Regions from separate parts of the Homo sapiens genome. Here region 2 is linked to region 1. Evidence: fine-mapped expression QTL. A gene starts in region 1. The other region holds a variant in brackets. All regions are shown on one strand. Distances are from middle to middle. Region 1 holds the start of TXLNG (taxilin gamma). Region 2 overlaps TXLNG (taxilin gamma).

Evidence for each region. PIP is the estimated chance that this variant, and not a neighbour inherited with it, causes the effect.
Region 2: its variant is the best candidate, but not a certain one, in a credible set for the expression of TXLNG in whole blood (TOPMed, PIP 0.72).

What each region holds. Positions count from the first base shown.
Region 1 is chrX:16,784,344-16,788,737 of GRCh38, forward strand. It overlaps TXLNG (taxilin gamma), which reads left to right and starts at 2,123. Exons shown (of 10, transcript NM_018360.3): 1 at 2,123-2,246. The coding sequence starts at 2,145. LOC124905250 (a long non-coding RNA gene) reads right to left here and starts at 1,923. Exons shown (of 2, transcript XR_007068398.1): 1 at 1,727-1,923; 2 at 1,317-1,620. RefSeq lists enhancers at 1,519-1,718, 1,690-2,422 and a silencer at 2,469-2,908.
Region 2 is chrX:16,812,716-16,817,109 of GRCh38, forward strand. The region is part of intron 1 of TXLNG (taxilin gamma); the gene reads left to right. Among named protein-coding and RNA genes, the nearest start is that of TXLNG, 28 kb to the left of the region's middle. The variant G/A (reference allele first, on the strand shown) is at 2,091.

The sequences.
Region 1 (4,394 bases):
AAAAAAGATATGCATTTAATTCAATTAAATATTTTTCATTTCTCTGAAGGCTTGGGGTTAATGGCATAGTTCTTTTCTTTTCTTTTTATTTTTTGAGACGGAGTCTCGCTCTTGTTGCCCAGGCTAGAGTGCAATGGCGTGATCCCGGCTTACTGCAACCTCCGCCTCCCGGGTTCAAGCGATTCTCCTGCCTCAGCCTCCCTAGTAGCTGGGATTGCAGGCACGTGTCACCACGCCTGGCTAATTCTATTTTTAGCACAGACCGGGTTTCACCACGTTGGTCAGGCTGGTCTTGAACTTCTGACCTCAGGTGATCCGCCCGCCTCGGCCTCCCAAAGTGCCGGGGTTACAGGCGTGAGCCACCGTGGCCGGCCTCTTTCCTTAATAAAGATAACTTTATTGATTTTTTTCATTCCATACATACTTAAACAATATAGAAAATCATGAAATTTGAAACCAGCCTGGGCAACATAATGCCCCATCTCTAAAAAAAAATTTTTTTTTGAGGAATAACTTACTTTTGTGTGTGTGTGTGTGATGGAGTTTCTCCTCACCCAGGCTGGAGTGTTCAATGGCACGATCTTGGCTCACTGCAACCTCTGCTGCCCGGGTTCAAGCGATTCTCCTGTCTCAGATCCCAAATAGCTGGAATTACAGAAGCCCACCACCGGCTGGGGGCGGTTGCTCACACCTGTAATCCCAGCACTTTGGGAGGCCGAGGAGGGCAGATCAGGGGGTCAGAAGTTCAAGACCAGCCTGGCCAACATGGTGAAACCCCTCTCTCTACTAAAAATACAAAAATTAGCCCAGCGTGGTGGCACGTGCCTGCAATCCCAGCTACTCGGGAGGCTGAGGCAGGAGAATTGCTTGAACCTGGGAGGCGGAGGTTGCAGTGAGCTGAGATCGTGCCACTGCACTCCAGCTTTGGGTGACAGCAAGACTCCGTCTTGGGAAAACAAAAACAAAGAAAAAAGAAAAGCCCACCACCACCACCATGCCCGGCTAATTTTTGTATTTTTAGTAGAGACGGAGTTTCACTGTGTTGGCCAGGCTGGTCTGGAACTCCTGACCTTGTGATCCACCCGCCTCGGTCCCCCAAGGTGTTGGCATTACAGGCGTGAGCCACCGCGCCCGGCCTCATAATGAATTATTTAAGACAATATATCAGGATTTCATGATGGTCTGTGCCTTTCAGAAGCTCGGCCATTGGAGATCTGGTTCCATCAGATGGAAATAGGGAATATTCCTGAGGAAATCTCCCCTCTCCCCCCCAACATCATATCAATAAAAAAAAAAATTCGGTTCAGCAAACCGAGTTTGTTGAAAAAATTTAGGTAATGAAACGAGTAAATGGGGTGGGAGAAAGCAGGATACATTCAACATGAATGAAGTGCCAAGTAAGTGTGCAGAAGCCGGGGCGGTTCAACCAAGGTGAATAGAATGCGGCACCTATCCCGCGGGAGCTCGGGACAAGTAAACCGTGGTAACAACTCTGGTGGAGGGGCAGGGCTCGGGGCAGGTGCCCGAGCACGAAACTTCAAATTCTAAGAGCCAATACACCTTCCGTCTTGAAAGTCGTGAAGTATTTTCCCTTATCCCCAAATCATTCGCGCCCAATTCCTAAGAACGGCAACAAAAACAAAAACACAAGAATGTGTCGCCGATCGTGCTCCTTCTCAAACACGGGGATATTTCTAAACTTTCCGCGAAAGATCATAACGAGTACCTTCCTATAGCCAGACATCGCCCCCAGAAACCGCAAGTCCCACTAGGATGCACACGAAGCACACTGGGTGCAGCACTCTCCCCTTTTCAGAACGCCGCCTTATGTCCCAATCCCGATCCGAGCCTGCGAGCTGTGGCCGCACGCCCTGCTGGGACTTGTAGTCCACTCCCGAGTCCCATTCCCGATCCGCGCAGACTCACACGGCCTCTATCTGCCCTTCGGTCTTGCTGAAGCCCAGCCCAGTATTCAATGCTCCCCATCCCCATCTCGCTCCGTCCCCTCGGGGGCCAACCTCCTCCGGTCACGTGGGAAGTCTCACATGCGGCGATTGGTCGTGGGGGCTCGGGGGCGGGGCGAAAGGCCCTGCGAGATTCTGTGCCCCTTGTCGGGCCGCTTGTTTGGCTGCTGCCGTCACCTCATGGCGACGCGGGTAGAGGAGGCAGCGCGGGGAAGAGGCGGCGGCGCCGAAGAGGCGACTGAGGCCGGACGGGGCGGACGGCGACGCAGCCCGCGGCAGAAGGTCAGTCAGGGGGACGCCCTCGTTGTTGTCGGGCCCGGGGGATGTTTGGGCTCCCTTTTTCAGGGTCCACCTCTTCTCTCTCCCTGGTTACCTATAGCCACGGGACGAACATCCGGTCTTCTTCCCTCCCGGGGGTGACGACAGTGGGAGCAGGTGGGGGGGGGTGGGACCGCGATGGATGGGGTGGGAAGGGACGACGGTTGGGGTTTGGCGGCGCGCGGCGGGGAAGCCGGGAGGGAGGGCAGGGGGCGCACGCGGTTCTAAGGGAGAAGGGGTGCGAGGCGGGGGTGCGCCAGGTGTGACAGCCACGTGCGGCCAGCACCGCGGGGATCCGGGCGCCAGGCGTTCCTTCTCCCAGTCACCGCCGTCACCGTGCTCCCGGCGCTGAGCGCCGCCGTCCGGGGGCTCGCTGGGGTCGTGGGCTCGCCCTCCTGGCGTCGGGCAGGTGCGCAGGGCGCGCTGCGGGGTGCCCCCGGGCTGCTCAGGCTAGGCTGTTGCGCAGTAAGATAACCGCGCGGGAGCCGGGGTGTGCTTGGCCCCCCTTCCCCCGCCCCCCTGCGCTCCCCGCCACTGCGCGGGCGGGCAGGCGAGCGGGTGAGTGTCGCAGGGCCGGTGCGAGCGGGACGCTCGGCCCCCGGGACCTAGACCCCGGGGCTCCGAGGGCTTGGCTGCACGTGGGGCCGGGGATGGATGGGGAGGCGATGCTGGAGGACCTCGGTCCTGCAGAGTTGGGATATCGCATGATAGCTGGTCCTCCCAGTCCTATTTACCACCCTCCTCTTTTTTCCCCTCTTTTTTTTCTTTCATTTATTATTTTTTTAATTTGATGAGTGGAAACTTGAATGCCTTCCCGACCCTGGCCTTGGGTCTTTCTTAATCTGGGAAACAGGCCGGACTGTTCCCCTTGCCTTACTTGACTCACGTCAAGGAGTTTTCAGTCCCTCCCTAGATACAGGAAAATTGAGACCTCTTTCAGAACGGGACAATTCCACTTGTTCTGGAGCTCAGTGGGTGGAGTTTGAAAAAGATTGCACAACGAACGGGGTACAGGGTTTTCGGGGCCCTGGAATGGATAATTGCGGGGACTGAGACTGGGAAGGTGGGAACCCCATCTCTTTTTTTCCTTGCAGGTGAACATACTGAAACGTTCGACTTGTTGGATATCTTGCTTGATCACCGAGGGCTATTTAATATTACTTAATTATGTATTTGAACACTCTTAACTCCTGTATGAAATTACGAAATAATATTTTTCTAATGCAATTCATAAACTTCAAATGGGAGAACAAAGGTCCAGTTTACGTCTGAGCAGAGTGTTAAGAATTAGCTTTTTGGGGCCTGTTTCTAAGGTCAGGTATTTTCATGTTTCTGCATGACAGTGTTACTACTTCTCAATTACCTCTCTTTCTTTCTCTCCCTCTCTTTGTATTCTAAAAGAAAGATCCAGTGCTTGCAGGACTGAAAAAGAAGCTGTGGACCAATGTCCTGTAAGGGATTCAACACCATCACTTTGGACACTTCACTTATTCCCTAAGGGTGGAGTGCCAATCTCAGTGTTTGATTTCGTAGGTTCCCCAGGGGAGGAGGACTCTGATAAAAAGCCACTGCAATTGAGGATATAAGTTCCCTTTTATGACACTGGGATAAGGACAAAAAGTCGTTGAATTAGGAACTGAGGTTTAATCAACTAGCATTTAAAATAACCAAGATAGGAGGTAATGACCCTTTGAGGTGCAGAGCTCTGGTTAACAGCTGGATAGGAATAGTCATGTGTGTGTCTACTCATTTTTGTTTATGTACCTCATACTCCATTCTTCTTTGCTTATGCTCTTCTGAGCATCTTTTTCTTTTTGATTTCTAACTGACAGTGACGGCATTCAAATACATGGTAAAATATTAATCTTTGAATTTTCATTTAACAAATTGGGTGAATTATCTTGTGTTTGCAAGAATCATTTTTAAGCCAGCTATGGTGGCATGCACCTGTAGTACCACCTAGTCAGGAGACTGAAGCAGGAGGCTAGCCTGGGCCGCAGAGTGAGACCCTGTCTCTTAAAAAAACAAACAAACTTGTTGTGTTTTTTTTTTTTTTTTTTGAGTCAGAGTCTTGCTCTGTTACCCAGGCTGCAGTGCAGTGATGCAATCTTG
Region 2 (4,394 bases), 28 kb after region 1:
TTTTGAGGTGGAGTTTCGCTCTTATGCCCAGGCTGGAGTACAATGGTGTGATCTCGGCTCACCACAACCTCTGCCTCGCAGGTTCTAGTGATTCTCCTGCCTCAGCCTCCCTAGTAGCTAGGATTACAGGCTTGCATCACCACGCCTGGCTAATTTTGTATTTTTAGTAGAGGCGGTGTTTCTCCATGTTGATCAGGCTAGTCTCGAACTCCTGACCTCAGGTGATCTGCCCACCTCAACCTCCCAAACTGCTGGGATTACAGGTATGAGCTACTGCGCCAGTCCTATTCCTTTCTTCCAAGTTGAGGTAACCATGAAGTCATCTGAAAAATATATCTGGTAAGGGACTTGTAGCTAGTTACATAAAGAACTCTTACAGTCCAACGATAAAATAACAACCCAATTAAACATGGGCAAAAGATCTGAAAAACATTCTTCAAAGAAGGTATACAAATGGCCAATAGGCACGTGAAAAGATGTTCAATATTGTTAGTCATTAGGGAAATGCAAATCAAAAACACAGTGAGGTACCATCACACTCAGTAGGATGGCTATAAAAAAATAATAATAACAAGTGTTGCTGAGGATGTGGAGAAATTGGAACCCCCATACACTTCTAGTGGGAATTTTAAATGGTACCAGTGAGCTGCGCGTGGTGGCTCACGCCTGTAATCCTAGTGCCCTGGGAGACTGAAGCAAGAGGATTGCTTGAGCCCAGAAGTTTTGAGACCAGCCTGGGCAACATAGCGAGACTCTCCCTCTACAAAATTAAAAAAAAAAAAATGAGCCTGGCATAGTGGCACATACCTGTAATCTCAGCACTTTGGGAGGCTGAGGCGAGAAGATGCTTTGAGCCCAGGAGGTTGAGGCTGCAGTAAGCTTGCATTGTGCAGTCTGGGCAACAAAGCGAGACCTCGTCTCCAAAAAAAAAAAAAAAAAGTACAGTTGCTTGGGAAAATAGTCTTACAGTTCCTCAAAAGGTTCAACATAGAGTGGTCATATAGCAATTCCACTCCTAGGACTGTACCCTGGAGAAGTGTCCACACAAAAATGAATGCATTAATGTTCATAGCAGAAATAGTCATAATTGGCCGGGCGCCGTGGCTCACGCCTGTAATCCCAGCACTTTGGGAGGCCGAGGTGGTCGGATCATAAGGTCAGGAGATCGAGACCATCCTGGCTAACACGGTGAAACCCCGTCTCTACTAAAAACACAAAAAATTAGCTGGGCGTGGTGGCGGGCACCTGTAGTCCCAGCTACTCGGGAGGCTGAGGCAGGAGAATGGCGTGAACCCGGGAGATGGAGATTGCAGTGAGCCAAGATCACGCCACTGCACTCCAGCCTGGGCGACAGAGCGAGACTCCATCTCAAAAAAAATAAAAAGAAATAGTCATAATAGCCAAAAATTGGAAATAACCCACATGTCCATCTGATGAATGGATAAATACAGTGTAGCCAAAAATTGGAAATAACCCACATGTCCATCTGATGAATGGATAAATACAATGTAGTCTCTCTGTATAAGGGATATTATTCAGCTACATGCATGGAATACTGATACATGCTATAACATGGAGGAATCTTGAAAATTTGCCACATGCAAATAGGCAGACTCAGCCCGGTGTGGTGGTTCACACCTGTAAACCCAGCACTTTGGGAGGCCAAGGTAGGTGGATCACCTAAGGTCAGGAGTTCGTGACCAGCCTGGCCAACATGGTGAAACCCTGTCTCTACTAAAAATACAAAAAATTAGCCGGGCATGGTTGCGGGTGCCCGTAATCCCAGCTACTTGGGAGGCTGAGGCAGGAGAATCGCTTGAACCCGGGAGGCGGAGGTTGCAGTGAGCGGAGACCGTGCCATTGCACTCCAGCCTGGGTGACAGAGTGAGACTCCATCTCAAAAGAAAAAATAGGCAGACTCAAAAGGCCACATATTGTATAGCTCCATTTATATGAAGTGTGTCTAGAATAGCCAAATCCATAGAGGCAGCAACTAGATTAGTGGCCTGGTGCTGAAGGTTATAGAAGCATTAAGGGTTGATAGCTAAGGAGAACTGGGTTTCATTTTCAGGTTATGAAAGTGTTGCAAA[G/A]TTGACTGTGGTAATGTTTGCACAACTTTGTGAATGCAGTAAAATTAGTGAACTGTACACTTTAAGTTAGGGAATTGTATGGTATGTGAATTATATCACAATAAAGGTGTTACAAAATAAATCGCTAATGGAACTGAAAAACTACAAATGAACCAATCTCATTCCTCAAGTAGCCTCAGGGTTAGGACAGGCCTCAGGGTTTTCTTGGTGAAAATTATTTATGCTTCCCCTTTTTTCTACGAATTTCATGCTCACTGTATTTTTGATACGGCTTGACACCATATTTTCTGGGATTGTGTGGGTTTTATTATCATTAAGTGTCTGAGAAATTCTGTGTTAGAGATAAGCAGTCTTCTATTCTCGTTTGTTTGTTTTTGTTGTTGTTGTTGAGATGGAGTCTTGCTCTGTCGCCCAGGCTGGAGTGCAATGGCGTGATCTAGGCTCACGGCAACCTCCGCCTCCCAGGTTCAAGCAATTCTCCTGCCTCAGCCTCCCGAGTAGCTGGGATTACAGGAATGCACCACCACGCCCAGTTAAATTTGTATTTTTAGTAGAGACGGGACTTCACCATGTTGATCAGGCTGGTCTCAAACTCCTGACCTCAGGTGATCCGCCTGCCTCAGCCTCCCAAAGTGCTGGGATTACAGGCGTGAGCCACCGCGACCGGCCTGTAGTGCCATTCTTATACCTAATGGTTTTCAGGGAATAGATTTGAAACTATTATTATTTTTTTTGAGACGGAGTCTCGCTCTGTCACCCAGGCTGGAGTACAGTGGTGCGATCTCAGCTCACTGCAACCTCCGCTTCCCGGGTTCAAGCGATTCTCCTGCCCCAGCCTCCCGAGTAGCTGGGATTACAGGCATGCTCCACCACGCCTGGCTAATTTTTGTATTTTTAGTAGAGGTGGGGTTTCACCACGTTGGTCAGGCTCGTCTTGAACTCCTAACCTTGTGATCTGCCCGTCTCGTCTCGGTCTCCCAAAGTGCTGGGATTACAGGCGTGAGCCACTGCGCCTGTCCGAAATTTTTTTTTTTTAATTGGGGAAAATGGTATTGATAGTACTCACTTTTTCCCTTTCTATTGCTTTTGTGTAAAGGGTCTCTTTATATATCTATGCGCCCAATTAGTACATGACATTTCAATATTTGATTAGAGGCGAAACTAGTAGTTACATGTGAAATGTAGCATTGAATTATCACTTTGCATCTGTTCTGTTAATAATAATACTGCTATAGTATGTTATTTGGGTATATTAATGATTTTTTTTTCTTTTTTTTTTGAGATGGAGTCTCGCTTTGTCACCCAGGCTGGAGTGCAGTGGCGCGATATCGGCTCAGTACAACCTCTGCCCAGCTAATTTTTGTATTTTTAGTAGAGACGGGGTTTCACCATGTTGGCCAGGCTGGTCTTGAACTCCTGACCTCAAGTGATTTGCCCACCTCAGCCTCCCAAAGTGCTGGGATTACAGGCATGAGCCACCTTGCCCGGCCTATTAACAATTTTAAGAAGTTTCTACAGTAGTGAAATCTTACAAATGATTTTTCCTAAAACTTGATTGTGAATCCTCTCCCACCCCAAGAGACGAAGTCTCACTATATTGCCCAGGCTGTCCTCAAACTTGCCTTAGCCCCCAAATAGCTAGGACTACAAGCATGCCCCACGATGCGTGCCATTGTGAATTTTTGAAAAACTTTATGGGTTACGCTTGAGAAACATTGCTCTATAGAATATGATACATATGGAAGTGAATTTTTAAAATCTTTTCAAATAACTTAAGAGTTTCAGTATTTGTAAGTTTTTTCTATCTGAATTAGGCTTAGAGTGTGGCATCAAACCATAACTCTGAAATAGATAACCCATTTCCCCTTAATGTGTTAATTTTTTTTAAGATGTCAAAGTATTACATGCACATTATTTTAAAAGTGTCATGAAAAGCAGCATATCTTTAATCTCTCTTCTTAGAGGAAAATATTTGTTTTGGTTCCTCTTACTTCTTGAATAATGTATAAATTGCAACTTTTAAAATAAACTTTACTGAAATACATAAATTGAGAAAAGTATACAAATCATAAATGTTAGGCTTAATGAATTTTCACAAAGTGAATGTGTCACCTCATCTAGACCAAGAAATAGAACACTACAAGCACCCCAGGAGGCCCCACCCCCAATGGTAACCGCTATCCTGATTTCTAGCACCATTTATTAGCTTGCCTTGTTTTTGAACTTTATACATAAATGATTTCCTATAGTAGATACTCTTCTAGCACCTTTTTCACAACATAGGTCTGTGAAACTCATCTATGT